Regions from separate parts of the Homo sapiens genome. Here all the other regions are linked to region 3. Evidence: fine-mapped expression QTL. A gene starts in region 3. Each other region holds a variant in brackets. All regions are shown on one strand. Distances are from middle to middle. Region 1 overlaps ELOVL5 (ELOVL fatty acid elongase 5). Region 2 overlaps ELOVL5 (ELOVL fatty acid elongase 5). Region 3 holds the start of ELOVL5 (ELOVL fatty acid elongase 5).

Region 1 (10,902 bases), 60 kb after region 3:
TTCAAAGGGGAGCATGCTTTTCAGAGGTAGCTTCCTGGGGTCAGCCAGAGTATGAAGCTGAATCTTTCAGGGGACACATAACACTTAGGGGCTCTGGCTGCCAAGGAGTTTCCCGCCATCCAAGAAGAGGTTGTCAGTTTGCTGCTGGCGGCTGACCTGTTTCCCTCTCCCTCCTCCCTGCCTAAGAAAAGGAATAGGGGCAGGAGAGGCCCTTCCTATACCAGTATCTCCTCTGGATCCGCCTAGGTCTTCGCTCTCATGCTACTACTCCTCAGTTTGTTAAATACTGCCCTTTAAATAGGCATTTATCTGATCATTGCTGCTTCACCTTCATGTTTTGTTTTGTTTTTATTTTCATTTTTGAGACGGAGTCTCACTCTGTTGCCCACGCTGGGGTGCAGTGGTACGATCTCAGCTCACTGCAGCCTCTTCCTCCCAATTTCAAGCGATTCTCCCACCTCAGCCTCCCAAGTAGCTGGGATTACAGGTGTGCAGCACCATGCCTGGCCAATTTTTATATTTTTAGTAGAGATAGTGTTTTGCCATGTTGGCCAGGCTGGTCTTGAACTCCTGACTTCAGGTGATCCACCCGCCTTGGCATCCCAAAGTGCTGGGATTACAGGCATGAGCCACCACACCCAGCCCTTGTTTTGTTTTTAAATCATTGTCCTCTCTGCTGTTGACCATTACACTCATAGCAAAGGCTGCCTTTCTAATTAGTGCCAGTTTCACTAACGTGGCTAAGCAGCACGTTTTCTGAGTCTGCATGTGCTGGCCACACTTGCCGACTGACACACAGCTGAGATGGAGGACTTCAGAGTTCAATGACTGCCATTTCTTGGGTTTTATCACCCTATGTGTAATCTGGTATACCTGGTTAATAAATCCAATTAATGGGAAGTGTAGCCTTCTCCTTGTTTTCTTCTTAAGTTCTTTGGAAAGAATATTTGTATTATTATTTTACTGAGCAAAAATCATGAATAATACATTGTTATTCAGAGCATGTAACAAGGAGCTTCACCTTGTTTGATATGTATTGAAAATCCATGCCTCCTCTCCTGATTGCTTTATTGGAATTAAGAACATGAATACCAGGTGACTTTTATATCATCATGGTTAGAGAAATTTTTTCAACGTTTGAAAAGTTGTGAATGTTTTTATATATCATTAATTTTTTTTAATTTTTCAGATACTAGAGTAAAAGGATGGTTTCTTCTGGACAATTATATACCCACATTTATCTGCTCTGTCATATATTTACTAATTGTATGGCTGGGACCAAAATACATGAGGAATAAACAGCCATTCTCTTGCCGGGGGATTTTAGTGGTGTATAACCTTGGACTCACACTGCTGTCTCTGTATATGTTCTGTGAGGTAAGTCAAAGGTTAACACAGTCTTCCTTTCACATAAATGCACTCATATTGCTGTCCTAAATTGTATTCCTAAATGAGGAAAGGTGGCCGCTTGGGGTGTAGAGACAACTGGGCAAGCAAGTATCTTAATGCGTTATGAGTGTGTTTTAAAATCGATTTTTCAAAATGTCAGAGTTGTTTGTACAAGTATGCCTTCTAGAATATCTAAAATAGAAGCCTTTGTTATTGATTCTTCTATTATGTTTCGTATGATATTCAAAATTAAAGTATTTTCAGAAATACTCTCATGCAAGCAAAATACAGAGTGGAAAATGAACAAAATGTGAAAAACACATGTGAAAGCATTTTATTATTAAGCATCTAATAAGTGCCTGCTTCTTGTTTGAAGGTAGGGGAGGAAGGAAGTGGGTGGCACTTGTGTTTGGTATGTTTTGTGGCACATCACCCTCTCTGATTGGATAACTTGTCAAATCTCAGTTGTTTTTTAAAAGCTAAGAGGAGTGTGACTGGTGAGATCTGCATTTAGGTTTTGAATTGTCTGTCTGAGTTCAGGCCCAGTTATTTTATATCACTGCAATGTTGAAAATCACATTTGATGATCTCAAAGGCAAATGTTATAGCTTAAAAATGAAAGAAAAATCAGAATCAACCCTTCTCTTCTCCCTATTTTGAAGGGGTAACACTATAGCCTTTAAAGCTAAAAGGGGGAGGAAAGCTTCCCTCTGGTGGTAAGCAGTTTGTGTACATTTTTCCAGGAAAGCCTACCCACTTTTCATTCTTACAGCACCAACCTATTTCTAACTCTTCTGGAGAATTAAGCCCTGGATAAAACCTATACAGGCACTCCTGTATAGGTTTTCAGGGTTTCATTTTGGTTTTAGTTCTTCAAGGAGTAGTAAAGAAGAAGGTAGAGGTGGGAGGAAGAGGAGAGATAGAAACATGAATCTTAAAATTAGTGTTCAGGGGTCAAAATGAATTCTCCATCAGCCTCAGGCCATGATGGTGTCTCCCTGTCTACGTGTGGTGGTGTGCAGGAGTGTGGGCGTGTGCAGGCATATTTGATTATCAGAGGTGTTGCAGCTGTGGGATATCTGTGTCTTGTTCTCCCATGTATGTTTCATAAGCCAAGGTACAGATATTCTGAATAGAATGGTAGATGTTCCTAGCATTACTTTTATGCTTGACATGCCAAGAAATGCTTACAACTCCTTTTTTTGCTTTTTTTTCTGTCCTATTCTAGAATGAAGTCAGTTTAATTAGACTCCAAGATGGAGAGTTCAGGACTGGAGCCAGGGGAAGTGCACAGGAGTGACTCCTGGCCCCAGCACTATGCACATTTCTGTGTTCAAGGGACAAAACCACAGCAAGCTGTCAGGTTTCTGAGTGAACTGCTTACTTTTCCATAATTGATAGATAATACAGCCATGTCTTTAAGAGAACTCTTACAGAGTTTATTATTATACATGGCAATATTAATAGAGAAAAATATTTCATGTGATTTTTAGAGAACTTAAGCATTTGCCTTAAATGTTTCTTAAGCCCTAGAAATATAGCTATAATTTCATTATTTATCCTCTCTTAAACAGATGATTCCCTGGTAAAGAGAAGAAAAACACTGTATAAAGTACAGCTGTGTGCATCTGAGTGGATGTGGGGGGTTCTGAACACATTGTAATAGAAGGTACAGATTTTCCTCTGATAGCTTGGTGAGAAGAGAAGACTTTGAGCAGTGACTAAGCACTGAATACAGAAATTTAAGAAATATACAGAATAGGGAAACTACATTTTTAACTCACAGTTTAGAGTACATAGAGAGGTAATAGACAAAGAGGCAATGTTTCCTTAAATTAAATCAAGTTTACAAAAAGCTATCCAGGTCAGATATACCCAAGTTGAAAATAAGCCCTAGTGCTCCAAGTTGATGGTATTCACATTTGGTTTTTGTCCGAGTTTTCTCCTGTACATATTGTAAAACCCATCAATAATTCCATTGTCATGTGTCCTTTTTCAAACTTCAAATATCATTTTAGCTACACGTTTTTCTGTTTGTTTGTTTTGAGACAGTTTCACTCTTGTCGCCCAGGCTGGAGTGCAGTGGCGCCATCTCGGCTCACTGCAACCTCCGCTTCCCAGGTTCAAGCGATTCTCTTGCCTCAGCCTCCCTAGTAGCTGGAACTACAGGCATGTGCCACCACTCCTGTCTAATTTTTTGTATTTTTAGTAGAGACAGGGTTTCACCATGTTGGCCAGGCTGGTCTTGAACTCCTGACCTCAGGTGATCCACCCGCCTCGGCCTCCCAAAGTGCAGGGATTACAGGCGTGAGCCACCGCACCCGGCCATTTTTCTTTTTATACTTAGCATTTCTACTCCATTGAATGCTAAGACACAGAAGAGCAGTCATGGAGTTTTACAATGGAACGAACTGAGGAGATCATGAAGCCCCATGGGGCCCCTCATTTTAGAGAAATGTCCCAGGAGTTAGAGCCATTCTTCTGTGGTCACACACCTGTAATGGTCATTATTTTAGTTTTTATTTACCTTCCTGCTTATCTGCATATTTGGGGCTGTAAAGAATTTTTTAAATAAGTAGTCTTTGGTATTTTTGTTTATTTAATTCTGTGGCATAAATTCACAGCTGCTTTAGCAAGTTCTAGATTAATAAAAATAAAATTAACTGTCACTTAAAGGAGACAGGAAGAAGCGGGGTTTTTTTGTTTGTTTGAGACAGAGTCTCACTCTGTTGCCCAGGCTGGAGTGCAGTGGTGCTCACTGCTTCTCGCCTCCTGGGCTCAACTGATCTCCCGCCTCAACCTCCCAAGTGGCTGGGACTACAGGAGCATGCCACCACGTCTAGCTAAGTTTTGTATTTTTCGTAAAGACAAGGTTTCATCATGTTGTCCAGGCTAGTCTTGAACTCTTAGGCTCAAGCAATCCACCCACCTCTGCCTCCCAAAGTGCTGAGATTACAGACATGAGCCACTACATCTGGCCAATAGGAAGAAGTCTTGAAAGAAGGGAGATGATCAGAAGGAAATGAAAGGAAGTCACTGAAACTTTAAATTTACTAGAAGGAAAATAACTAAATCCCAGTTTTAAAACTGTGAAACCGAGTTTAAAATGTAGAAGGAATATAGACTTGCTCATAGTTTGTGTACTTGGTAGAAACAAAATTAAAAGGAGAGAAGAGGTATTACTTCTATATCTCATTAACTTTAGTGTTTATTTCCAGGAAAAAGGTCATAGATCCCTGATTTGGAGCATATTTGAATTAGTGGTATGTTTTAATTTGAAAGTATTGGACTTTATAGCAATCCTTTTTGCTTTTGCTTATTAGGGGTTGTCTAATATCACAGTCCATGGTGAAAGCTCGGAAATGAAATTCCAGGTTATAGAAGAGAAACAACTTAGTTTGCATTAGTTACTTAGCTTTGTAAAACGATGCCCTTACAGCAAACTTAAAA[A/C]TCTTGTGCGCCTTTTAGCCACCCGAGATTCAGGGCATTTGTCCTCTGAAGAGAAGCCTGATTTTTTGCACTATCCATGTGTCTTTTCTCTTGTCTCCAGTCCCAAAATTGAGAACCTCTACATACATGGTGCCAAACGGTGGCTTTCCCTCACTCTGCCTTATCTACCTGGTTGGATCAGGTTTCCCCTGACCCATCCAGTGAGCTATCAAAGCCACTTTTAACTCCTTTGTTAGAGTGTTACAGGTGGTTTCCCTCTTAGGCAGATGCTCTGTCCTCATGTGAAGCCATTCAATGTGTCTACTCTTCTCCTGCTGTGCCTCAGACCTCTTAGACCCTAAGCAGAGAGGATCTAATTGTGTTTGTTACAGTCCAAAAGGGAGCAACCCCGTCGATCTGCCTGTGCCTCACGAACTGATCCTTCGACTCAGCAGCAGCTGCCAGAAAACAGGGTCAGTGTTGTGCAGTGCACATGGCTTTGAATTCCCCAGGAACACTGTGTTGAAAGGATGGCTGGCTCCTTTCCTCAGAAGGAGGCACTCCGGCCTTTCTTAGCCGATCTGTTATGCTGAGCTCTACTCAAACCCCAGCAACACCAGGCTCTTTCATTCTTCTGGGCTCTACCCCTTAAAACTCCCACTTCTGCCTGGCAGTCTCCCTCTCACTTTTGAGGACTGTGTGGAAGGATCCAATTCCTCTGTGAAGCCATGAGCGTACTAAGGAAGAGGACTCAACTCTAGAGAGTGAATTTTTTTTTCTCCCAGCCTCTTTGGCTATCCCATTGTTCCCACGGACTATGATGCATTCCTTTCAAAGTACTCTCATGATGTGCCCCTTAGCATCCCATCCTTGCCCCACTGACACTCACTGGCTTAGGCTAGAATGAAACAATGTTTTCCCCACCTTCTTCATCCCACTGTTACTATACCTGATTACTCCACCAAATGGATCCTGAGTATTAGAATACAAAAATAAGCAAATGTCGGAACCACATTTTCAAGTTATTTAGTAGTCAAAGATAAATCATGGGTTACAGACAAGATTATTTTTTGAGTATCTGTGTATGTTTCCTCCCTTGCAGTTAGAACTATATGTTGTGAATAGTGTGAGAGAATGCGCTTTAAAATATTCAGAACATTTAAAATGTAATTTTGAAAGAAAAAAATTTGTAATTTTGAAAAAGCTGGATGGATGCATCTGGCTTGGCATAAATCCAAACTTATCTTTCTTCCCCTTTTCAATTTTTATTTTAAATTGTAATTTTGGAACTATTTGAAAATATTTAAAATAAAATTATATAGATGATATCTGTGCACCTAACAAATGCTTGATTTTTGTTTGTTTGTTTAAATAAGAAAACATTACAAAAATGCATCTAAAGTACAGTCCCTTTCCAGACTTCTTCGGAAATTTGTACAGTTTTTCTCTGGATGTATTTTTACTACATATATATGTATACATGACAACACATAGTACGTTCTAAGATAGTTTTTAAAAACCATACGTGAATGGTATACTAATTAAACTCTTTTTCAAATAGATTTTTTTCAGTCAGTATATTTTTGACCAATTCATCTTGAGTCGTATAGATGTAATTCATTAATTATAATTATGTTAATTATAGTTAATTAGAAATTCATTTTATCTGCTTTGTATTATTTCAGTGTTGGAATTTATTACACCATTTTATAAGTGTTTCTTTGGATGGATATGTATGTTGTTAGATTGTTTTTTGTTGTTGTTTTTTGAGACAGAGTCCGGCTCTGTTACCCCGGCTGGAGTTCAGTGGCACAATCATACCTCACCCACTGCAGCCTAGAACTCCTGGCCTTAAGCGATCCTCCCACCTCAGCCTCCTGAGTAGCTGGGACTACAGGCATGTGCCACCATGCCTGGCTAATTTTTTTATTTTTGGTAGAAACATTGTCTCACGGTGTTGCCTGGACTGATCTCAAACTCCTGGACTCAAAGTGATCCTCCCACATCAGCCTCCCAAAGTGCTAGGATTACAGGTGTGAGCCACTGTGCCCAGCTATGTGGGTTTATGCAAGTTGTTCAATTAACAGTGTGCCAAGAATCTTCTTAGACATATCTCCTTATGCAAATATGGTAAGTTTTTTGACCAGATAAATGCATAGGGGTTTAATGACTGAATCCGACAGTCTCTTGTCTTTAATGGGGAAATTTAATTCATTTTCATTTAGCATGTTAATAGTTATTTTATACCTCAGATATTGCAGCATTAGTTGCAGATCACTGCAATAAAATGAGTATTGCAATAAAGTAAGTCATACCATTTTTGGTTTCGCAGTGCATATAAAAGTTATGTTTACATTATGGTCTATTAAGTGTGCAATCGCATTAAATCTTAAAAAAAAACAGTAGACATACCTAAATTTAAAAATGCTGGCCAGGCACAATGGTGTACATCTGTAATCCTAGCACTTTGAGAGGCCGAGGTGGGAGAATTGCTTGAGGCCAGGAGTTTGAGACCAGCCTGGGCAACATAGCAAGATCCTCTCTCTACAAAAAATTTTATAACTAGCCTGGCATGGCTCGAGCTTGTTGTCCTAGCTACTTGGGAGGCCGAGGTGGGAGGATGGCTTGTGCCCAGGAGCTCAAGGTTCCGGTGAGCTATGACCACACCACTGCACTCCAGCCTGGGTGACAGAGTAAAACCCTATTTATAAGAAAAAAAAGATAAATTAAAAATAAAAATGCTCCCAGGTGCAGTGGTATGTGCTACAGTTTAGTGTAGCCATGTTCGTCAGTGATCTTAGTTAAATCTTCCAGATAACTGGCTGCAGCTTCTATAGCAGCACTTGCTGCTACACCTTGCCCTTTTGTGTTATGGAGATGACTTCTTCCCTTAAACCTTATGAGCTATCCTCTGCTATTTTCAAGCTTTTCTTCTGCAGCTTCATCACCTCTCCCAGGCTTCACAGAATTGAAGTGAGTTAGTGGCTTGCTCTGGATTAGATTTTGGCTTAAGGGAATGTTATGGCTGGTTTGATCTTCTACCTAGACCACTCAAACTTTCAGCAATAAGGCTACTAATGCTTTCTCATCATTTTTATGTTCATACGAGTAGCACTTTTAATTTCCTTCAGTAACTTTTCCTTTGCATTCACAACGTGGCTAACCTGGTACGAGAGGCCCAGCTTTCGTCCTGTCTCAGCTTTCCACCTGCCTTCCTCACTAAGCTTAATCATTTCTAGCTTTTGATGTAAAGTGAGAGACATGCTACTCTTCCTTTCACTTCAGCACTTAGAGGCCATTGTAGGATTATTAACCCAATTTCAATATTGTTGTATCTCAGGAAATAAGGAGGCCAGAGAAGAAAGAGATGGTTAGGGGGAACAGCAAGTCTGTGGAGCAGCTAAAATACAGACAATATTTGTTGAGTTTGCTGTCTTATATAGGTGTGGTTCATGGCACCTCAAAACAATTACAATGGTAACATCAAAGTTCAGTAACCACACACAGATCGCCACAACAGATATAATAATAGTGAAAAAATTTGAAATATTTTGAGAAATATTTTATAATTGTGAGAATTACAAAAATGTGACACAGTAACACATAGTGAACACGTGCTGTTGTAAAAATGGTACCAATAGAGTTGCTTAATGCAGAGTTGCCACAGACCTCAGTTAAGAAAACCTGTAATATATACAAAGTGCAATAAAGCAAAGATGAGGTATGCCTGTACTTTCTGTCACCTTTTTTGTGTATATATGTTTTCTTTGGCCTTCTTTTCTCCTTTACTGCTTTGTAGAATTTTTGTAACCATTATTTTTTATTGTACTTATTCAAAAGTTATTCATTCTGTTGAGTGGTTACCCATAGATGTTTACCATGCATTTTTAACTTACGACAGTTTCAGTTGAGTCAGTATTTCTATTCTCCTAAACAATACCAGGGACCTTAGAGGATTCTAGCTGTGACCCCTCATCTTTCATGTTACTGTTGTCAGGAGTTATTTCTACCTTTTTTTTTAAAAAAAAAAAAAGATGGTCTTGCTCTGTTGCCCAGGCTGAAGTGCAGTGACATGGTCATAGCTCATTGTAACCTCAAACTCCTGGGCACAAGTGATCTTCCTGCCTCAGCCTCCCAGGCAGCTGGGACTGCAGGAGCATGCCACTGTGCCCAGCTAATATTTTTATTTTTTGTAGAGATGGAGTCTCACTTTGTTGCCCAAGCTGGTCTCAAATTCCTGGGCTCTGGCAGTCCTCCCACCCTGGCCTCCCAAAGCACTAGGATTACAGGCGTGAGCCACCACATCTGGCCTCACTTTTTTTTTTTTTTAAGGTCCTAAATAATCACCATTATTGCCATCAGTGTTTACTGATTTTCTTTGCTCTGTGAAATTTATTCTTTCCTTTTTGATTCAATTTTTTTCGTAAGTAGTTCTTTCTATGAAGGGCAATATCTTAGTCTGAGTGTCATGTTATTTGCCTTTACACTTGAATAATATTTTATCAAGGCATAGAATTCTAGATTAACAGTTATTTTTCCTCAGCACTTTGAAGATTTATTCCAGAGAAGTCTGCTGTGGTCCCACTTTTGCTCATTTGTAGGGTAATCTTTTTTTCTTTCTAGGCACTTTGAAAATTTTGCATTCTTCCATTCACTCCTACTTCCTTCATTTGTTTTTAATCTGTTTCATCCATCTATTGTGTTTTTAGTTTAAATGGCTATGTATCTTTTACTTCTGAAAGTTCACTGCTTGCTCTTTTTTTATTCCATAACATGGAAGTATTGTCCCCCCCAGTGATATAGATTAGATGACAGTGATCTCCAAATTTAACCATTTGCTGTGTTGCCTTTTTAAGTATTCTATTAAAAGCTTGCTTACAGATATATCTGTGAGGTAATGCCTCTGGGATAATTATTGTCTGTGTTAAATTTCTTTACCTCCTAAAACAGAAGTAAAGGTTTGCCTAGTGTTCTGTGTAAGCATCCCAAACTAGTATTGTTGGGGGTCATCTCAGGTAAACATGCCTTTTCCACATAAAGATTTTGGAAGGAGTTGAATTTAAGCTGATTTCTCTTTTTCTAAAGAATAATTTGTTGTGGGGACCTCCCTCGCATTATAGGTAAGAATTGATTGTGTTGGAGTTTTTGCTGTGTTTTATACCACTTTCCTACCTGTGTTTATAGTGAGAGAGTTGGTTCTGCTTTTGTTCAGTTTGCCACGTTGCTAGAACCAGAAGTCAGTTTTTTTTCCTTTGAATTTGTTTTGAAAATTTGTGATGCTTTTTTATTGGAAAGATGAAAGAAGTTGAGCATTTGGTGACTGAATGCTTTGTTTGTGCTTTCTAACCTCTGTAATTGTGGGCTGTGAAAGCATCTCCCCAGGCTCTGGGTTTGAAGGCCATCTGATGGAACCACAGAGCAGTTGCTTTGGAAACATAATATTCTAAACTGGTTGTTTTTCTTTCCCTTCAGGCTTTCCTAAAATAGATACGTTATTGTGGGAAAATAGGATTTGGAAAAACACTTAAGCAACCTGGCAATTGATTATTGAATTTTATTTGAAAAATAACTTTGTTTACCAAAATACTTTGAAAAGGCTATTTGCTGTTCTTTTTCCCATTTAGCAGAGGTATAGAGCAGTTGAAACATCTGGTGAAATTAGTACTTACAAGAAATGCCTGATCATTGCCTAGAATACTTTTCACTCTTAGTTTCCTTACAACTAAAATTCCTTGCTGAGAAAGAAACTTCTCTCAGGGCCTGAAAGGAAACAGTTAGTTGTCCCTAGTGTATCTGACACTGCCCTGAGAGAATGCCTCACGGTAGGGAGAATGGAGAGAAGGATGCAGCTCAAACATCCTTCATTCCTCACCCACACCCAGGGGAGGGGAAGGGAATACTTTCTACAGAGAGGAAGCCTTCTGGCTTGTCCAGAGCCAGGCCTCACTCCTCTAAACTTGCCCCTGCAACACCTGGAGAGCTTGGCTCTGCAGCTGGTGTAGCTAGGAGCACATCACTCTACAGATCCTCAACTAAAGTGGACTTAACTCTGCAAAGCAGGCGTCAGTGGGTAGGCTGGAGACC
Region 2 (10,902 bases), 80 kb after region 3:
ATCAGCTGTCTTCCACAGCCTTCAGAGAGCATATTTGGGCAGTTGTGCATGTAAAGAAAAACAGCTGTCTCTGAGAGTGGGTGGGCATCTGCAGCAAAGCCTGTAGGTGCTGGGATGGCGTCGTGGCTTCAGTGTCAGATGCCCCTCTAGCAGCTACAGCTGACCCCTGGGCTCGGAGCCTCCTGGTGGCTGCCTGCCCAAGTGGAAATTGAATTCTCATTACACATCCATGCATTGCTTGCTGTTGCAGTGTTTGTCAGCTCCGTTGGAAGTCATCTCTCTTTCTGATTCAAAAAGAATCTTGTATTTTTTTTTTTTTTACCACCTGTTCTGTTTAAAACACTAATACATTCTCCTTCCCAAATCCCTCTGTTCCTGCAGCTTATTTTGGTGCCACACTTAATAGCTTCATCCACGTCCTCATGTACTCTTACTATGGTTTGTCGTCAGTCCCTTCCATGCGTCCATACCTCTGGTGGAAGAAGTACATCACTCAGGGGCAGCTGGTGAGTGACTTGGCCTCTTTCCCCAGGACTTACTTCCTGGTGGATACAGACCTCTTCCTGGCTTTAGTGTTATGTAATAGCATCTAAGATGCCCCTTCTCCACCCTTTTTCATTTGATGTAATTAAATTCCTTGAAGTGGGTAGATTAGGGAATTTTCTTGTTTTGAACTGATAGTGAACTGTGACCATGGGCATACAGCTAGTTGAATTGTACAAAGAGGTCTAGAATCTAATTTGCCAACTTCAAGTTCAGCTCTTCTGAGTTTTTGCACATAAGCACATATGCATGTATGTGTGTATATGTGTGTGTGTTTTCTAATTATAGTCCAAAATCCAAAATGAAAATTGTATGTTTCCAGGGGTTTTAGAAGGAGCTGGAGAGTAGTATGGAGTCCAGGGTATGTGTAGCCCATTACTAGGCAGCAAGGATATTTGTTTGGCAGGTATGGATGACCCCTCAGCCCCCATGCAGTGGAGCACCTGTTGGTGAGGATGGCAGCTGTTTGCTTCAGTTAACAGCTCCTCCCCTGGTTTACTGCCAGGGCCAGGCCACTTCACCTGATACTTCTCACCATCCTTGATTAAGCCTTCTGCATTCATCAGTATATTATAGGTAACCTCTTTCTCTCCTCTCATGAATTCGTCTATGAACTAATTAATACTACTACTGCTCATATTAAACACTGACATTTCCTAAGTGTTTAGCACATGTTGGGTACTCATACTAAGTACATGATTTTACATAGATTGTTCCAGTAGCCTGATTTCATATTATTGTCCCCAAGCCAGGCACAGTGGCTCACGCCTGTAATCACAGCATTTTGGGAGGTCGAGGCAGGAGGATCACTTGAGGCCAGGAGTTTAAGACCAGCCTGGGGAACATAGTGAGGCCCTGTCTCTACCAAAAAGAAAAACACATATTATTGTCCCTATTTTATAGATGACACTGAGTCAATAGGCCAAAGCTAGCTGACTGAGGGGTGTGGACATTAAACCCTTTGCCCTGTCCTTGCATTATTAACACATTTTTCTAAACACACCAAGCTGATTCAGATCCCTTCAAGTCAATTATGATTTTTCAATATTTAAAAATAACAATCTGAAAAAAAAGTCTGAGAAAATCTTAGAGACTGAAGTGTTTGATGTTTCATTTTCACCTCTCTGCCAGCTGCTATATGGTCCTTGTTAATTTTTTCTCACCCACCTGTGAAAAAGGAAAATTGTTGATTAACCTCCTTGTTATACTTGAGGAGAAATGATGCAGAAATTGATTTATACCACAGTTTTGGGTCTGGCGGAAGCAGAATTTAAAAGAACAGACTGGCAAAGTTGGTCTCCCGTTAGGCTCTGTACTTTGAGGTGGAAGATTAAACCTACCCAGGTTGTCAGGATTTATTTTAAGCACCACTCCTAGTTATTCCTCAGTCTGCAGTACTAACCTTAAAAAAGAGAAGGCAAACAGCCAGGCACAGTGGGTCATGGCTTGGAGTCCCGGTCACTCGGGAGGCTGAGGTAGAAGGATCTCTTGAACCTGAGAGTTTGAGGCCACCCTGGGCAACATAGACCCTGTCTCAAAAATTAAAAACAAAAAACTCTACATAGAAACATTGGAGCTGCTAGAAATACAGTGTGCAGAGCCTAGCCCTTTTTTTGGGGGGAGGGGCAGGGGTTGAGCTGGAGTCTCGCTCTGTCACCAGGCTGGAGTGCAGTGGCGCGATCTCGGTTCGCTGCAACCTCTGCCTCCTGGGTTCAAGCAATTCTCCTATCTCAGCCTCCCAAGTAGCTGGGACTACCGGCGTGTGCCACCATACCCAGCTAATTTTTGTATTTTTAGTAGAGACAGGGTTTCACCATTTTGGCCAGGATGGTGTTGATCTCTTGACCTTGTGATCCGCCAGCCTCGGCCTCCCAAAGTGCTGGAATTACAGGCGTGAGCCACCACGCCCGGCCTGAGCCTAGCCCTTTTTAAAACATCTTTCCACCATTTCTCTAACCAGTTCACATGCGTTTCAAGGTTTATTCATCAAAATTAATCAATGCACTTAGTGTTGTTTGCCAGTAAAGGTTTAAATCTACTCATCAGCCTTCACCAAACCAGAAGCGTCCATGGATAAGGAGTTGGAAGGATGTCCAGCCAGGTGGCACATCCTGCAGTGATGTTATCAGTGCCCTTTCAACATACACACTTGCTCTTCCTTCTCAAAAAATAAAAACAAAAAGTCTTGGATGTCTCTATAGTGTATCCTTGAAATTTGGAGAAGGTAGTTTAAATAGCTTGGAGGGCAGAGGAAGAATATATATAAGACAAACACACCTAGAGTTTAGGATAAGTATAGTGTATGTGTTGTGTTCATGAAGTGACTGCTGTACCTGCAGCAAGGGTAGTAAGTGTTAATTCAGAAATTTAGGTGATGCTGGTTAAAAAGTCTGCCTGGTGTGGGGCCTCGTCCATGCACTGTCCCTGTTCAGCTGCATCCCCTCTGTTCCCCTAGCTTCAGTTTGTGCTGACAATCATCCAGACCAGCTGCGGGGTCATCTGGCCGTGCACATTCCCTCTTGGTTGGTTGTATTTCCAGATTGGATACATGATTTCCCTGATTGCTCTCTTCACAAACTTCTACATTCAGGTAAATCTCACCCTTCTCTGGGACTTGGAATCTGGGGCCTTTACCAACAAAGGCCCTCATCTATTTACTTAATGGGCATGTGGAGCCCTTGCTGGGTGACAGGCTCTGGCCTCTAATGGAGTCACTATGACAAGAGCAGCCCCTGCCTCTGGGGGGCTCACAGCTCACTGGAAGACACTAGAATCCTGTTCTAGAGCCTGGGTGAGGAAGTCTTGGGATTCCCCTGGGAAATGGAAAACTGTGCAGCAGGACCCTATGTTGCTTCCCTCTGACCTGCAGCAGAGACGTGAGAGGTGATTTCAATCAGAAATCTCTCAGTTCACTACCCTGAACGTCATGGCCAAATGAAATTTCAGAAGAGATTTTTATCACAGTCCTCAGATATGGAGATCTGCTTTTTTGTCCCAGCTTTCTTATACATTCAGTCTTCAGGTGTGAGGATTCGGTTCATTCCTAAGCATATGATGTGGTGATGTAGGTCTTTGCTCACAGAAAGATCCATTTAGGGCAGATAATTTCCAGTGGAGCCTGACCACGTTGCAGCCACTGCTGATTCTCCTGCCATGCGTCACCCCCCAGATGACATGTGTCCTGCCTTTGTTGCCAGTGCCTGGTAGCCATAAGGCCTGCTGATCTGGGCAAAACACGGAGGTCAGGAGCAAGGGCAGAGGCTGCAAGTCCCGAGGCTCAGACATTTGTCCTTTCTTCTTCTGTGCCCACAAGCACCTGTGTGTGGCATGTTGAGTTTCAGTGGAAGTCATATACTTCTGGGCTTCATAGTTTATGGCTGCACTGTGGGACATACACCAGCTACAAGGAAGGTGAAAGGATAGGACCCGATGAAGCTGAAATCACATTTATTCTAACTACTTATAGCAGCATAGCACTTTGTTCATGAAGGCTGAGATAGTCGCCGAGGCAGTGAGGAACTTTTGAAGACGAACAAGGGATGTGGGTGTCAAGAGAGCTGCTGCCAGGTGGGAAAGACCAATTTGGCCACATAACCCCTGTCATCTGCCATCCAGATACTAAAAGGCAAAGCAAAGTGTAAATTGAATTTTCTATGTGACATTTTAAATAGTATTTCTGTTGCAGCCTGTGATTCAGTTAACTTACCTCAGGCTAAGCCTCAAAAAAAAAAAGGAAGAATGATTGAAACCAGTGACAAAAGATTTAGTCAATGAGGACTTGACCTCAGGAGTTTCTCCTTGATAAGATTTGATCTTGAAACTAGGCCTAGTGTTAGGGATGCAATTCTCAGTAAAGTTCCCTATAAAGAAAACTGTGGTCATTTGGTTCTCATCTGCCCTTACACATTTTAGACCTACAACAAGAAAGGGGCCTCCCGAAGGAAAGACCACCTGAAGGACCACCAGAATGGGTCCATGGCTGCTGTGAATGGACACACCAACAGCTTTTCACCCCTGGAAAACAATGTGAAGCCAAGGAAGCTGCGGAAGGATTGAAGTCAAAGAATTGAAACCCTCCAAACCACGTCATCTGATTGTAAGCACAATATGAGTTGTGCCCCAATGCTCGTTAACAGCTGCTGTAACTAGTCTGGCCTACAATAGTGTGATTCATGTAGGACTTCTTTCATCAATTCAAAACCCCTAGAAAACGTATACAGATTATATAAGTAGGGATAAGATTTCTAACATTTCTGGGCTCTCTGACCCCTGCGCTAGACTGTGGAAAGGGAGTATTATTATAGTATACAACACTGCTGTTGCCTTATTAGTTATAACATGATAGGTGCTGAATTGTGATTCACAATTTAAAAACACTGTAATCCAAACTTTTTTTTTTAACTGTAGATCATGCATGTGATTGTAAATGTAAATTTGTACAATGTTGTTATGGTAGAGAAACACACATGCCTTAAAATTTAAAAAGCAGGGCCCAAAGCTTATTAGTTTAAATTAGGGTATGTTTCAAGTTTGTATTAATTTGTAATAGCTCTGTTTAGAAAAAATCAAAGACCATGATTTATGAAACTAATGTGACATAATTTCCAGTGACTTGTTGATGTGAAATCAGACACGGCACCTTCAGTTTTGTACTATTGGCTTTGAATCAAGCAGGCTCAAATCTAGTGGAACAGTCAGTTTAACTTTTTAACAGATCTTATTTTTTTATTTTGAGTGCCACTATTAATGTAAAAAGGGGGGGGCTCTACAGCAGTCGTGATGAAACTTAAATATATATTCTTTGTCCTCGAGATTTTAGGAAGGGTGTAGGGTGAGTAGGCCATTTTTAATTTCTGAAGTGCTAAGTGTTTTTATACAGCAAACAAAAAGTCAATTTTGCTTTCCACCAGTGCGAGAGAGGATGTATACTTTTCAAGAGAGATGATTGCCTATTTACCGTTTGACAGAGTCC[C/T]GTAGATGAGCAATGGGGAACTGGTTGCCAGGGTCTAAATTTGGATTGATTTATGCACTGTTATCTGTTTTGACACAGATTTCCTTGTAAAATGTGCCTAGTTTACCAAAATTAACAAAGGGGGGGAAAGGACCTTAGAACTTTTTAAGGTAAAATCAAATATAGCTACAGCATAAGAGAATCGAGAAATTTGATAGAGGTAACTTGTTTAATGTAAATCTAATAGTACTTGTAATTTCTTTCTGCTTAGAATCTAAAGATGTGTTTAGAACCTCTTGTTTAAAAATAATAGACTGCTTATCATAAAATCACATCTCACACATTTGAGGCAGTGGTCAAACAGGTAAAGCCTATGATGTGTGTCATTTTAAAGTGTCGGAATTTAGCCTCTGAATACCTTCTCCATTGGGGGAAAGATATTCTTGGAACCACTCATGACATATCTTAGAAGGTCATTGACAATGTATAAACTAATTGTTGGTTTGATATTTATGTAAATATCAGTTTACCATGCTTTAATTTTGCACATTCGTACTATAGGGAGCCTATTGGTTCTCTATTAGTCTTGTGGGTTTTCTGTTTGAAAAGGAGTCATGGCATCTGTTTACATTTACCTTATCAAACCTAGAATGTGTATATTTATAAATGTATGTCTTCATTGCTAGGTACTAATTTGCAGATGTCTTTACATATTTCAATACAGAAACTATAACATTCAATAGTGTGCTGTCAAAGTGTGCTTAGCTCACCTGGATATACCTACATTGTTAAATGTCTAAACAGTAATCATTAAAACATTTTTGATTACCTGTGCCTGCATTTTACATTTTTTGTGCTGGCAATTCTGAAGAACTGGAGAAAAATCCACTTAATTCACTGTCTAGGAACTTACACAAATGGATATAAATAATTCAGTTAGGAAGGCCATATTATTGCTTAGTTCTCAATGAGGAAGGACCCTGCATAATAAGGCATAGTGGTGGTTCCACCCTAATGCTGTCCCCTCTGCCTCCTCCAGGTAATCCCACTAAAGGTTCCAGCTCTAAATATGCTCCTTTGTCCTTCCTCCCCATTGGCCCCAATCTCTCCCCTTACCCTGAGAATGTTAGAATTACTTTCCTAGGTCTAGACCATAGGTCTTCTGCAAAATTTTTTTCTGGAAAGAACCAGTTGGAAAATATTTCAGGCTTTGCAGGACATACAGTCCCTGTTGCAGCCACTTGACTGTGCCATCGTGGAGCACAAAAACAGCCATAGACAATATGTAAATGAATGGGCATGGCTGTGTTCTAATAAAACTTTATTTACAGGCTTGGAAAACATAGCAAGACCTCATCTCTACATAAAATTTTTAAAAATTAACTGGGCATGGTGGTACATACCAGCAGTCCCAGCTACTCAGGAGGATGAGGCCAAAGATCGCCTGAACCCATGAGTTCGAAGTTACGGTGAGCTAGGGTCATGTGACTGCACTCCAGCCTGGGCAACAGAGTGAGACCCCATCTCTTTAAAAAAAAAAATTACAAAACAGAAGGCCTGTGCCTATAGTTTGCTGACCTCTACTCTAGAGTAATGAGGTCCCCTCCCCTTGGACCTAAAGCTCAATCATTTTATTTGCCAAAGATCATTTTATGTCCCAGATTGTGGCCCTTCCCAGCGTACCCTACTTATTTTGAATTTACAGGTACATTCACGTCTACAACAGGAGAGATGACATGGATGGTCCATCTTCCTTCCATCTACTTCATACCATATGGTCCCCAGTATAGGCTCTTAGGTACTAAACTAGAAAGCACCTAAGAGCCAAGACTAAGCCTATACCGTTTTAAATGAGTGCTCATGAAAGTCATGTTAGTTGCTGAAATTACCTGCGGATGTGACTGCAGAATTGTCAGAACTCCAGAGAAATGTCACCTAAAACTGCATTTAGTACTTGGGATATTATCCAGAAGGTGTAAGAGGATTGTTGGGGAGTTGATGGGAATAAATTATATCCCTGTCTTTCCCCTCTAAGTTCAGAACAAATTGAAAAAATACTGGAAATTAGACCAGTAGGAATCAAAATAGCATGTGTCTTACTAAGAAGGCTGGATTGGTGAAACTAAGACCACAGTGTGGCTCTCTAATTAACCCTTGCTAATAACTCTATTAACCTAACTTACCAGGGCTCAGTAGCACACCAGTGGTTGCTCTGAGGGTTGGTCTGGTGATAAAGTGATTATTAAAATATATTAAATATCAGTCCTGGAATTTACCTACCTTAAATTGTAAACTCCCCTTGTGGCAGATTCTACACTGATGACCTTACCATGCCAAGAAAGTGTGCTTAGCTGCACCTCCCAAGCAGCAATCAAAGTCTTCCCTCCTCCCGTCAGAGAAGTGAGTGGATAAGAGGCGAGAGAGAGGGCAGATGTGTTCTGCTGTCCTTTTTCTTGTATGGAAAAGGGAGGATTCCCATTTCTCCCTCTATTTTTGGCAGCCTTGCTAATCATGTGAAGGGCATTGTAGACTAATATGAGAAGTACAACTTGGAGACCACATTGGCTGGGTTGAAATCCTACCTGTATGACCTTTTGGCAAGAAAACTTTGCCTTAGTTTTCTCTTCTGCCAAATAGGAGTAATGTTAGTTTCTATGTTACAGGGTCCTTGTAAGGATTAAATAGATGACTAATGATACTGTATATATAAAGCCTTTGGAACCCCATCTAGCTCAGAGTAAAGTGTAAGTGATAACTTCAGGATTGTAATCTCAACTCACCCCACTGGTCTCTTTCAGCTGTAAGCTATTGTTTCACTGTTATTTCCCTGGTTGGCTGCTCTAGTAATCCTATCCAAAAAAAGGGAAGGAAGTTATTTCGTGTGACATTTTCTTTGTTAAATCAGTGTTGAAAAGAAATCAGCAATTGTTAGGAGTCAAATGTTCACCGTCTATATTATTCCTGATTTTGCCAGAGTTTTACATTAAGTTCACCATTCTGGAGTTTTTAGAATCTACTTTGGAAAATAGGGCAGTGATTATCAGTATCTGGACTTCGTTCATTGTTTCCCTGGAGTTCTGACAACAATTCTGCAGTCATATCCACAGGTTGTTTCAGCGACTGACATGTCTTTCATGAGAACTCGTTTAAAACAGGTGTTTCCTGCTATCCCCTTATCACTCTTGGACTTCAAATCCTAACCAGGTTTTTCTTTACACTCTTTAATTTGGAAATGATTGTCCTCAGTGGAGCAGATGGAGCCAAATAGTGGTTGCTGTCAGTTTTTTGCTCTGCTCTTCAGCATTGCTTCATTGGCCATTAGTTCTTACTCCAGGCATAGATTTAAAACCTGCTTTTGTTATCCTTGACATTTTTGTAGTCCTTATCTTCTCTCTTTCTTCGGTATGTTTATGGCTCATGAAAAGAAAGTTCCTGGGCCAGTTTTTGCTATAGCTTGCAGAGGATGTCTGGATTCGACTCTTGATCAGATCAAGGAAGACTTCTGGGGTGGAAATTGTAGGAACAAGCAGTGCAGGATCCAGTGAATGGCTAATGTAGTGGTGACAGAGACCCAGTTGTAATGCTTCCCTTTCTCACATAATCAGGACTCTCCTGAACAGTACCTACCACCCTGTCTGTTGCCCCATTTATGTTACTCTGTTGGCCAGGCCTTTGCAGAATGTGACCTTGTTCACTGGGAGAGTGCTTGGTACAGAGGACTGAGCTAGGTGTATTGAGCAAACAGGGATCTGTGAGAAAACAACCGGCCCTCGCAGGAGCCTCTACTGAATTGGGATCAAACATACACACATGTGCCTTCTGTGTAAAATGGTTGTGGTGACTGCCGTAAACTGGTATAAACCAGCTACCATGAGAGTCCAGGGAGGGAGAACCCTTCTAGCAAGGGTGGGTAAGAAAAGCACTGTAAAGGAGTTGGCTTTTAATCTGAGCATTCAGAGACCATCTGGGTTTCAGTAGTTGGAGCCTGAAGGTGCTGGGAAGACAGCATTCCACATACAGGAACCAGTATGAGCAAATGCATAGAAGGCCCAGAGGGAGATGACACACTGCACTCGAGTGGATCTGTGGGTGAAACTGCTTGTTTTAAAAATGAGGTCAAGTGGGAAGAGAGTGGAATTTGTCTGGGTGTTCTCCTTGATGAAATGTGTAGAATGTTGTTCAGAGCTCCCAGAGGAAGTAGTGATTATGTGTAAAGGAACCATTCTGAGCAGAGCCTCCTGTCACTGGCCTGTGCCCTAGCCGTCCTGCTCCCATCACCAGCAGTGCCAGGGAGGAGCCAGAACATGATGATAACGAGAACCAGGACTCACATTAGTCTCAGTTATAAGCTGATGGAGTCTTCTGTCAGATAGGGCAGGTTCAAAGGGTACCTCAGACCTTTGCCAGAAAATTGCTCCTCACCAAAGAGATGGCATTTGAAATCTGAAAACGGGACCCCTGATGGGATGAGTCGGGATTGAAATCCCACATTGGCTCATAAACAAATATTTCTTAAATGATTGTGTCCACACATTCCTACTGGTGTTCTTTGTTCAAATAATGGGCATAGATGCAGGTTTCCCTTGGATGAATTTGACAATGTTTTAACCAAGCTACCACTTTTCAGCAAATTGTGTGCTTTCCCCTTGACAATGTTCCCAGTGAAACAGGTGCCTGTTTGTAGGAAAGCATCAGCACCAGGTTCCAACAACCTTGTGCCCTTCCCTGCTCCCCTTTTTTTTTTTTTTTTAAGATGGAGTCTCACTCTGTCACCCAGGTTGGAGTACAGTGGCCCAATCTCGGCTCACTGCAAGCTCCACCTCCCGGGTTCACGCTATTCTGCCTCAGCCTCCCGAGTAGCTGGGACTACAGGCACCTGCCACCACGCCCAGCTAATTTTTTTTTTTTTTTTTTGTATTTTTAGTAGACACAGGGTTTCACCATGTTTGCCAGGATGGTCTCAATCTCCTGACCTCGTGATCCGCCCGCTTCGGCCTCCCAAAGTGCTGGGATTACAGGTGTGAGCCACTGCTCCCAGCACCCTGCTCCCTTATTAATTGCTGTGGCTCTCAGTCCTCCAGGAAGGCTACATGGTTAGGGGTTGACCAAGTCCCAACTGCCTGCTGCCTGTGCCATTCCTGCAGAGCTCCAGCCCTCTAGGAGTACTGGGTTAAGTGTATTTTAAAACCAAGGCCAGGGCTGGGTGTGGTGGCTCATGCCTGTAATCCCAACAGTTTGGGAGGCCGAGGCAGGTGGATCACTTGAGGTCACGAGTTCGAAACCAGACTGGCCAACATGGTGAAACCCCGTCTCTACTAAAAATACAAAAAATTAGCTGGGTATGGTGGTGCACACCTGTAATCCCAGCTACTCGGGAGGCTGAAGCAGGAGAATCACTTGAACCCAGG
Region 3 (10,902 bases):
CTTTTACTATCAGGGAGATGAGAAATTGCTAGATGACATTGAGCAGACATGTGACGTGATTTGGCTTTGGTTTTAAAAGGATCACTCTGGCACCTGGTTTGGGAATAGACTGTAGGCAGCAAAGACAGAAGTAGAGGTCTGGTTAGAAGACCATTACAACATTCTAGGCAATGGTTGATAGTGACTTAAACCAGGTGGTCATGTTGGAGATGGTAAAAAGCAAACACATTCTGGATATGTTTCAAAGGTCAAGTAGTAGAGTGTTGCTGATGCACTGGATGTAGTAGGTGAGAAAAAAAGAGGAGCTAAAGGTAACTCCAAGGTGTCTGATCTGAGAAACGGGGTCCATAGAATTGTCATTTACAAATCTGGGGACTACTGTGGAAGATCAGGTTTGAAGGCCAGTTAAGAGTTCATTTTTTGTTATGCTTAATTTGAGATGTCTTTTGGATATCTCATTTATGAATATATCTCATTTAGAGAAGTCATTAATAAGTAGTTAAGTACGTAAGTCTGGAAATCAGGGAAAATGTGTGGGCTGGAGAAATACACTTGGAAGTCAGCCGACCATAGATGAAATCCAAACACATGAAAGGGGATGATATCACCTGCAAAGGAAATGTGGATACAGAAGACTGGGATGCAGATCTCTTTCATTGCCCAGTCACTTCTGGAGACAGTACTAAAGAGTGTAAAAGGAAGTGGAGAAGAAAATCTAGAGAATCCAGAAATTGTACAAATTGTTCATTCATTAATCGAATATTTATGAACATTTGTGATTTGCCAGAAATTCTGCTAGTCATTAAGAAAACAATATAGCAGACCAGGCATGGGCAGTGTCTTCAAGTAGTTCATGTTCATCAAGATGAACACTCAAGGACAAGGACAGAGATAAACTGCAGGACATATTGTTGAACAGCAATGAAGAAAAGGAATAGCAAAGTAACAATTGAAGTATGGAACTGACTCCAAGGTCTGAGGAGGACAAGAAACTGCCTTTAATCTACCTCTGCCTCCGACAAAGACAAGCCAGGTGGCCTGTGGGAATTCTGGGCAGCAAGATAATAGAAAACACAAATTAGAACAGAAGAAAAAAGGATTGTGGGGGGAGGCGGAGAACGTAGGAACCAACAGAGACTGCAGTGTCATCTTTAGCATAAAATAGCTGCTACTTGACCTATATTTTAGTCAACTTTGATATGTCCAGAGGCAAACATTGGCTTATATCTTTTCTGGAAGGATGTGTTTCATTATGTCATGCAAATACGTCCTAATGAAACAAGTTTCACTAATCAGAATTGTATTCTAATGAAAGTTCCAATTGTATTTTTTAATTCAACTGCAGCTGCTATAACAATAAAACAAATTGCCTAGGATGTTAAGTACTTTCCTTTTCAAAAGCAATACTGAAGCAACCTTCTAATACACTTAGAAGTGTGTGGTTTGAGGAGATTTGAGCTCAATGATGAAAACTAAGAGCAAAAGGAAAAATATTACCAGAATTTAAAAACAAATAGAAGGCCAGGCACAGTGGCTCACGCCTGTAATCCCAGCACTTTAGGGGGCCGAGGTGGGTGGATCACCTGAGTTCGGGAGTTCAAGACCAGCCTGGCCAACATGGCGAAACTCCATCTCTACTAAAAATACAAAAAAATTAGCCAGGTGTGGTGGCGGGCGCTCCCAGCTACTTGGGAGGCTGAGGCAGGAGAATTGCTTGAACCTGGGAGGTGGAGGTTGCAATGAGCCAAGATCGTGCCATTGCACCCCAGCCTGAGCAACAAGAGCGAAACTCCATCTCAAAAATAAATAAATAAATAAATAAATAAATACATGAAGGAGAAAGAAGAAAATATTAATAGTTAGCTATTGAATGAAGATAATTCAACAATCATTTCTTGGGGGACTACCATGTGGATGCTATGAACAAACAGGTAATAGTTACAAGGTTTTGTTAACTGTACCTTACATGGGCTCACATTGTTGGATAGGTGGGTTAGAAGGGCAAGGATGGCTTCAGCACAGTTTCCAGAACCCAGCTGGCCAGGAATCTGATTCTGATGCTACCTAAAACAGGTTCCTTGAGCCCTGTTATTTAGTAAGCCTGGCATTGGATCCTAGGTATTCTTTTGATTTATTTGGAAAAAATCCCACAGTTAAGTTGGGGAGTCGTTTCGGCTCCACTGTTTTTCTTACAGCTTTACTCATGAGTGCAATGATGCAGAAATACGAAGTAATTGTTAGGGTGGGAGGAAGTTTCCCCCAGAGATATATGACACATGATAAACATTACATTGTAATATGTAAAATAATACATTTGCATATATATATATGTTCTGAGAACTCTAAGTCTCTGGCTGGAGAACTAATGAGAACATGACCGTACCAACATGTTTGAGAGGAGTTAATAATCTAATAATCCTGGGATGTGACTATCTGACAGAGGATTGGAACTCTGGAGCTGAAAAGTGATGGTGATGGTGAGGGGGAGTAACTGTTCACAGATTCACTCATCTAACACGTATTTATTGAGCCCTTATATGCCAGGGATTGTACTAAGATCTACAGATCAATAAGGAGCAAAATTCAACATGTTTTCCCCTTCAACGGAGTTTACTACCTAAAGCGGTGGTCTTTAAAGTGGGGTACATATACCCCAAGGATTGAGTGAGATGATGCCATCAGAAAGCAACTACAATACAGGGTGGTGATGCTATAATGGAAACCAAGATACACACATCAACAAAGAACTGTGTAAAAACGCAGCCTTTGGGGGATGGGAAAAAACAGCAAAACGTCATACTTAATCATACAATAAGAAAAATCACTTGATATTTAATGCATAGCTTGACAGTTATATAAGCCTGAACTTAAAGATATTTTGGTCAAATGGGCTTAAAACATTTTATTGATAGGTAAGCACAATTCAAACAAGTGCGGCGTAAAACTTAAGACTTTTGGAATCTCAAGTTAAATTAGAAACTTTTAAAACCTGGAAAGGCAAAACTTAGATGGGATGACAGAGATGAACCCTGGCCTTGGACTACTGGCAGAAGCGTGAAGAATGAAGGAGATATCTCAAAAAAATAGTCTATGCCACCAGCATATGCTTTTCTCATGTCCCTTGATGTCCATAGCAGCATTTACCACTCTGCATTGTAGTTGCTTCCTGACTGTATCATTTTCCAGGCCCAAGAAGTCCTTGAAGGTTTCAAATTTTGAATACCTAACATAGTATCTAGCAAATTGAAGTCATTCAGTGTTTGTGGAGCTCAATGGCAACTGACAATCTCGATTCTTTGTATATGTTTAATTTACTTAATTTGTACATGGTTTGTATACTTGCATTCCTATTGCAATGGCCCACTGCCTGGAACACAGCTGGCACGTGATAAGCATTACATTGTAAATATGTAAAAGAATAAATTTGCCGGCCAGGCTCGGTGACTCACGTCTGTAATCCCAGCACTTTGGCAAGCTGAGGCGAGCGGATTACCTGAGGTCAGGAGTTCGAGACCAGCCTGGCCAACATGGCGAAACCTCATCTCTACTAAAAATACAAAAATTAGTCGGGTGTGGTGGCGCGTGCCTGTAATTCCAGCTACTTGGGAGGCTGAGGCAGGAGAATCGCTTGAACCCGGAAGGTGGAGGTTGCAGTGAGCTGAGATCGCGCCACTGCACTCCAGCCTGGGCAACAGAGCGAGACTCTGTCTCAAAAAAGAAAAAAAAAGAAAAAAAAGAATAAATTTGCCTACATTAAATAGCCGACTGTTAGGTGGATGCACATAGAGGAGTAAGAATACAGCAAGAGGGGCACACGAAGAAAGGCTAAATCTCTGGGGTTTGAATGGGGAAACAGTAGGATACAAAGCTAATGAAGGTCTTTAATTATCCAAATATCAGTGAAAAACAGCAAGGATCTTCCGTTTATGCCCTGAACCCCCTTTGTCTTAAGTGCTTAAATATGCTTAGCTGAAAAGACACTGATTCCATCTTTCCTCATTTAACAATCCTTTAGAATAATTTCTAGAGTAGAAATGGAGTTGATAGTGGCTTCCAAAGAAAAATCAGAATCCCTAAGAAAAATACACGGTAAATCCTTTGCAAGGGAGTTATGGTTACAACAGTTTTGAGTCGTTTTGTTCTTGTTCCTTTATCTTGTTCAACTGCAGACCTTCACTCCGGCGGTCTCCGTGGGCATTTAACCCTTTCAGCTTTAACGATGAAGTGGATCCCCTTCAGCATGACATAACTCATAGAGGAGACCGTAACGAGGGTGGGCTTCTGCCACCCAAATGCGGCCACAGACTCCTGCCACGCCTGGCAGTAAAAAAACCAGAGTTCAGGGCATCGACAACTTCACCGGGGCTATTGCGCAGGCTCTGCGTTCCACGCAGGCTTATTAGGAAGAAAGGGGAAAAAAATTTCCCAGAGACACGTGGAACCGAGGGGCCAACCCCGGCCTAGGCTCTCCACCGCATCGGATTCTGGAATTTACGATCACGAAAGTTCTATTGTCCCGCGATTGGCTCCCGGGCCGCATGACATCATAGCGCTTGATTCATCCTTCGGGTCCCGATTGGCTGGCCGCGCCATTGTGACGTCACGGTCAGCCCACGTTCTGATTGTAGATAGCCGGCGCCTTCCTCTTCCCATCGCGCGGGTCCTAGCCACCGGTGTCTCCTTCTACATCCGCCTCTGCGCCGGCTGCCACCCGCGCTCCCTCCGCCGCCGCCGCCTTGCTGCTGCTCAAAGCTGCTGCCGCCCCTTGGGCTAAAAGGTAAAGCCGTCAGCTCCGGGAAACTTCGTCGGGGGCCGCCGCTCGGCCATGACACCCGCGCGAGCGCGCGGCCGGGAAGCGGTCAGAGAGAACTGCCGTTAGGTCTCGGACCTGGTGCCGAGAAAGAGCTGCCGGGGCAACCCGCGCTCCGCCCGCGGCCTCCAGCTCCGCCGGCTCCGGGGTACAGCCCGGCTCCTCGGGCGCGGGGAAAGGGGTGCGGGTGCGGGCGCGGGCGGCTCGCCCCACGCCGAGGCTGAGGCAGGGCGCTCGGGAGCGTTCTCTGTGCTGCGGTCCCACCTGTGCGCGCTGACAGGCGCCGCGGGGCACGACACCGTGCCCACACCAGACGCGGAGGGATGGATCTGTCCGCCTGGGTCCTCCCGCCCTGCGGGCCGGAGCGCGCGGCGGGAGAGCCGGGGGAGCGCTCTCGGAGGGAGCGCGCTTTCTTTGGAGTCGGCGAAACCCGGGTGAGTTCGAAGAGCCTGTGCGAGGGTCTGCGGGCACCGGGCGCCGCTGGGGGGACTCTCCGGCCTTTCCTTTTTGTCCTGTTCTCTCCGCTTCCGTTAACCCTGCGGACCTTCCGTCCGCCCCTCGGAGGGAAGCCTGCTAGCTCGGGACCGCTTCAGTTTTTATTGAAACCAGACAACGGCAGCCCTTGGTACTCAGGGAGGGATGAGGCTGGTGGGAAAGCGAGAGGGCGGGGACTCGGGGGCGACCGGGGCGGCCCTTTCTGGGAGCCTGATCCCTGGAGAGGCGGGAGCGGTTGGCTGCGAGGGAGGCGCGCGGCGGGGGGGCGGTTGTGCTCTGCGCCGGGGGAGCTAGAGTGTGTGTTGTCTTGCGAGTTGTAAGGAAAAGTGCCTTTTTACTGTTTCCACGCCGGTAAGACTCTCCCACCCCACCACCTCGGGTCGACGGAGCAATGCCTAGAGCAAGAGTTGTTCTTGCTGAACTGCGTCTTGCAACCGTTCCGTGTTCTTGCACTTGGCGGTTCCCCCCGCCCCATCCACAATTGTGAATTAAGCTCCTTGATTGCAAATTTGGAGAATGCATTTGGCCAGTTATGCAAAGTGGCGGAGGTGGCGGGGTCGGGGGCGGGGGGTCTCTTTCGGAAGAATCCAGTGCATGGTTTATTAGCTAGACTGAGGAACCGAGAGGTGCTAGATGGGATTTGTGGGGAGCGAGCAGCCTAATTTGTTTTAAATAGCGGGACCCGTGGCAGGAAGTGCTTCATAGAATTGTACGGAAGAGCTGATGTTGCTTGTCAGGTTTTGTAACTCATTCTCCTAACCGCTTGGCAGATAACCTGTTGGTCTGCACTTGTTTTGCTTGCACGTCTCAGCCAAAAGCATTTCGTGCAGAATCTACAGATAGAAACAGGCGGTTTTGCATTAGATGGCCGTGGACAAACATTTTAGCCTTCCATCTGTGATTGGGGACAAGTGGGTTACTTTTCTGGTAGCTCAGACACTGCCTGGGATTCTCCAGGAAAGCTCTGCACTTGAAAGGGAAATGTTACTCATTTTCCTTTTAGATTTTTACCCTAGATTCTAACTTCTTATTGCCAGGAACTTTTTCTGTACTGTTTCTCTTTTTGCATTTTCGTTTCTATTTCTAATTGAAGACAAAGGGGAAATTTTTATTGATAGTTACAGATAGGTAATGTTACAGAATGTAGTACAGAACTTTGCTGAAAAGCGACAGTAGAAGGCTTACTAAAATTTGATGTTTTTCAAGAAAAATATCTTGTAACTTCAGATATTGACCTCACCTCCTTGACTCAATTTCCTTGTCTATACATGGGGATTTTATGTGGCAGGATCATTGTGGATTTCAAGAGATAATGCAAATGAGAGCCCAGCATTGAGTCTGCCAAATGGTGGTTTGAAAATGTTTCCTTCCCATTCCCTGAAATCAACAGCTTCTTCTTGGTTACAGACCTTAATTTTTGGATGTTCTGTTTGCAAGAATCTTTTTTTCCACTACCTCTTCTTTTGCTCCCTGCATAATGGTTGCTTGTCTTCCTGCTTCTAGAGGTGAGCATCCATCCTTGGGTGTCTTATTTCCAGCTTGAATTACACAAATCAAAGCAAAACTGTTTACTTTTCTTGAGGGTAACTTTGGTGCCTAGGTGGGTAGTTAGTGTGAAGAGAGAGTTTTACCTCTTGCTTTCCTGGCTACATTCTTCTCTCCTAAAAGATTTTGTAATTTTTTTTTTTAATTCCTCCTCTTTGCCTACCAGCTCTTCTGTTATCAAAAGGCTAATCCTCTCATTAGTTACCTGTAAATAAGTCTTTCCTTGAATGCTTTCTGTGTCAGGTACTTATTAATACGCACATGTACATAAACGGTTGCTTTCCACACGTAATTCTTATAACACCTCTGTGAGGTTTTATCCCCCAGTTGTTTTTTAAGAATTGAGGAGCACTATGAAGACACATGCACACGTATGTTTATTGCAGCACCATTTACAATAGCAAAGACTTGGAACCAACTCAAATGCCCATCAATGATAGACTGGATAAAGAAAATGTGGCACATATACACCATGGAATACTATGCAGCCATAAAAAAGATGAGTTCGTGTCTTTTGCAGGGACATGGATGAAGCTGGAAACCATCATCCTCAGCAGACTAACACAGGAACAGAAAACCAAACACTGCATATTCTCACTCATAAGTGGGAGTCGAACAGTGAGAACACATGGACACAGGGAGGGAAACATCACACACCCGGGCCTATCGGGTGGTGGGGGGCAAGGGGAGGGAGAGCATTAGGACAAATTCCTAATGCACGCAGGGCTTAAAACCTAGATGATGGGTTGATAGGTGCAGGAAACCAGCATGGCACATGTATACCTATGTAACAAACATGCACGTTCAGCACATGTATCGCATAACTTAAAGTGGAAGAAAAATAAAAAAGAATCTCTAGGATTAAGGCCTAGAGATGACAAGTGACTTGTCCAAATTCCTATAGCTCTGTCTCCTGCAACATCTCTGCTCCTTCATATATCCCTGTGCTGCCAGGATTATTTGCCCAGTGGGCTCTGTGCCATTATGTAACACTGTTACTCCACAACTTAAAAATCTAACCTTGTGTTTAAAGGTTCTTGTTAATCCATCCAAGACTAACAATTTATTGTCTCTTAAATCTGTCTAAAATCTGTTCCCTTCCTTGTAGCCCACACTTGATTCATTTTTTAAATTAATTCATTGACTTCTCAGTTACTGATTTTGGGTGTGAGGGGCTGGATACAAAAATGAATTACAACAGTTCCTGATTCCAGAGGGTTTCCTGATTTAGTATATACTTTAAGCCTGTATACACATACTTAATCTACACCTTGGACCAAAAGAGAGTCAGAAGCAGATTTCTGGGACACTTATATCTTTATATCTGAGAAAGCTTTATGGCAGAGCTATCCATGTTAAGGGCCTAGCATTCCTGAATTGGTCAGGATGCTTTTGGTGCAAGAAACAGAAAACCCAACTGAGACCTACCTGTGCATCTGACCTGAAAAGTCCTGAGGGCAGGACTTTTGCTCCATTTCTCTGAAGTCCCCTCAGATGTCTGTTATGTCCTAGACTGATTTTCCAAGATGACTGACAGCAGCTGCCACCATAATCTCACATGGGGATTCCCTGACTTCCTGCCACCCTCCAAAGAGTCCTTTACCTTAAGGTGATTGACTTAGGCCTTGGTTACTTGAAGCAATAACTGGAACAGTGGACATTTGATAAGCTGGGGGCCCATCCCAGAACCAGGGAAGTGAAGTTAAATCTCCTCAGCTAGCTGCTTCACCTTTAAGAAGGGCCTGCAGAACACAGGAAGTCAGCTACAGCGTCTGTTTTAAGGACCGAATGGATGATTGGATTAAACTAAATTGACTTGAATTAAAATTAGAATTTAGCCTTACATTTTGTAAAGGACTCTTAGTTGATAGGCAGGAATAGGAGGACATGCGTTCTAGGCAAGAGGGAGTTTGGAGAGTAAGCGAGTGTGGAATCATTGGGCAAAAAGCAAATAGCACAATTGGCAGAAGCTGGTTTAGAAGGCAGGAGTGGAAGAAAAGGTGAGAAAGGCAAGTTATTGATGTAATAATAATGGCTAACTCTTACTGAGCTATTGTATGTCAGACCTTGCACTGAGCCCCTCACAAGGACTTATTTCTATTATTAATGGATGCTACAGCATTCCCATTTTACAGGTGGAAAAAGGCCCAGAGTTTAGACACTTGATTTGGGGTCACAAAGCATTCCAGCTCAGATCACCTTGACACCCTGGCCTGCTCCGTCTCCTAAGGTGTTTGGTAGAATACCACCAATAAGCTTTTGAATAAGAATGAGGACATTATGAGTGCTGTGCTCCAGAAAGACAGTCTTGTTAGAGTGTAGGGTGGATTGTTGTGGGTTTGTTAGAGATGGCCAGGGCAGTGAAAAGGCCTGACCTGAAGCCACAGCCATGAGCACAGACTTGAGAGAGGTAATTGTGAGAGACTGTGTCCAGGATAAGACTTGAAGACCAGTTGGATTTGAGGGCCAGCAAGAGGAGGGATACTCTTCCAAAGAGAAGAGGGAGCTTTGTGATCAGATGGAAATAGCCCCACAGCCTAGATAGATATCCAGACTAGCTGTTTCTTCCAATTCCTCCTCTTCACGGCCAACCTTTGTCTTAGCTATTTTTTTGGTTGCCTTTCTGCAAGAACATGTTTCTACCACATTTCATCTATTGTCAGCTTTTCACATTTCACATCTGGGTAGAGATGGAGCTTATAATCAGTGGCATCTTAAAATCACTGCAGGTAACTTTCCACATTTTAATATTACAGAATTGGGATGCCTCCTACACTTTTCCCTGGTGAGAAAAGGAAAGCCCCAATGTTACCAAAGGTGGTGCAGCCAGATGCTGGCAGAGCCAGGCTTCTGGGCTTCTTCCACCAGCTGGGTTACCTCTGCTCCCATGATAGTTATTAAAACACATGTAGCTTCACGTTACAGGTTTATAGTAAAGTACATACATGTTTGTGTGTTTATTAAAACTGAAGTAATTTGAGAAGATTGGAAGGCATGATTGTTTAAGTAGGGTGCCTCATTCTTGTATAGAATCTGGCTGCCTTGGTTTCTTGTCCTAACTTGAAGAAAATCAACTCTGAGCATTGGTCTCTTTTCCTTTAAAATGAAAGATTAAATTTTATTTTCATTTTTGCCTAGAGCAAATTTTATTTTTTATTTTTGTTTTGTTTCTGTTTGGCCAGGGATAGAGAATGAAAGTGAGATCATTTAGATCTTAGAAAGGTAGATGTTGGCTGGGCACGGTGGCTCACACCTGTAATCCCAGCACTTTGGGAAGCCATGGTGGGCAGATCATTTGAGCTCAGGAGTTTGCAACCAGCCTGGGCAATATGGCAAGACCCCATCTGTACAAAAAATACAAAAATTAGCTGGATGTGGTGGTACATGCCTGTAGTCCCAGCTCCTTGGGAGGCTGAGGTGGGAGGATGACTTCAGTCCAGGAGGCGGAGGTTACAGTGAGCCGTGATTACACCACTGCACTCCGGCCTGGGTGACAGAGCCAGACTCTGTCCCAAAATAAATAAAGAAAGAAGGAAAGGAGGGAGGGAGGGAGGGAAAATGTCAGAACAGTTGATGGAGATTGCAGCAGCAGCAGCAAGCTGCTGGTTTTCTCTTTATGAGATTAAAACATCACTGCTGGAGATGTTCTGGCCTATCCTGACCTGATTTTCAGTTTCTGCAATAGGAACCCTCACCACCAACCCCAGTTTCAACCCGTAAATGTTATTACCAGCCTTTTTGGTTCCCACTGGCGTGTTTGCTCCATGGTAACATTTTTAGTGGACTTGTAGGCATTCACTTTTAGAATTGTGTAGTCTCTGGATTTAAAATATTCATACTTGGTGACCTTTTAGAAAGACTAAATTCCCACTCTTGCTCCTCCATCCTCTTCTGCCAGTTCTGTGTGAAGTACAGTTGTAATTGCATTCAGGCATGAGTATGTCTTAGTATTCCTTATTATTAGATTGGACTTTTTTACCTTTTATTTGATGTCTGCTGGCTGACTGGGATTTAGGGAAAAATTTCTGATTTATTTTAAGATTTTTAGTGCT

What was found. PIP is the estimated chance that this variant, and not a neighbour inherited with it, causes the effect. A credible set is the group of variants that fine-mapping cannot tell apart.
Region 1: its variant is the best candidate, but not a certain one, in a credible set for the expression of ELOVL5 in whole blood (TOPMed, PIP 0.59).
Region 2: its variant is the best candidate, but not a certain one, in a credible set for the expression of ELOVL5 in whole blood (INTERVAL, PIP 0.54).

What each region holds. Positions count from the first base shown.
Region 1 is chr6:53,282,251-53,293,152 of GRCh38, reverse strand. It overlaps ELOVL5 (ELOVL fatty acid elongase 5), which reads left to right. Exons shown (of 8, transcript NM_021814.5): 3 at 1,190-1,377. Among named protein-coding and RNA genes, the nearest start is that of MIR5685, 11 kb to the right of the region's middle. RefSeq lists an enhancer at 9,895-10,064. The variant A/C (reference allele first, on the strand shown) is at 4,840.
Region 2 is chr6:53,262,824-53,273,725 of GRCh38, reverse strand. It overlaps ELOVL5 (ELOVL fatty acid elongase 5), which reads left to right. Exons shown (of 8, transcript NM_021814.5): 6 at 382-506; 7 at 2,999-3,133; 8 at 4,456-6,322. The coding sequence ends at 4,599. Among named protein-coding and RNA genes, the nearest start is that of MIR5685, 8.7 kb to the left of the region's middle. The variant C/T (reference allele first, on the strand shown) is at 5,516.
Region 3 is chr6:53,342,692-53,353,593 of GRCh38, reverse strand. It overlaps ELOVL5 (ELOVL fatty acid elongase 5), which reads left to right and starts at 4,644. Exons shown (of 8, transcript NM_021814.5): 1 at 4,644-4,777. RefSeq lists a silencer at 4,804-5,243.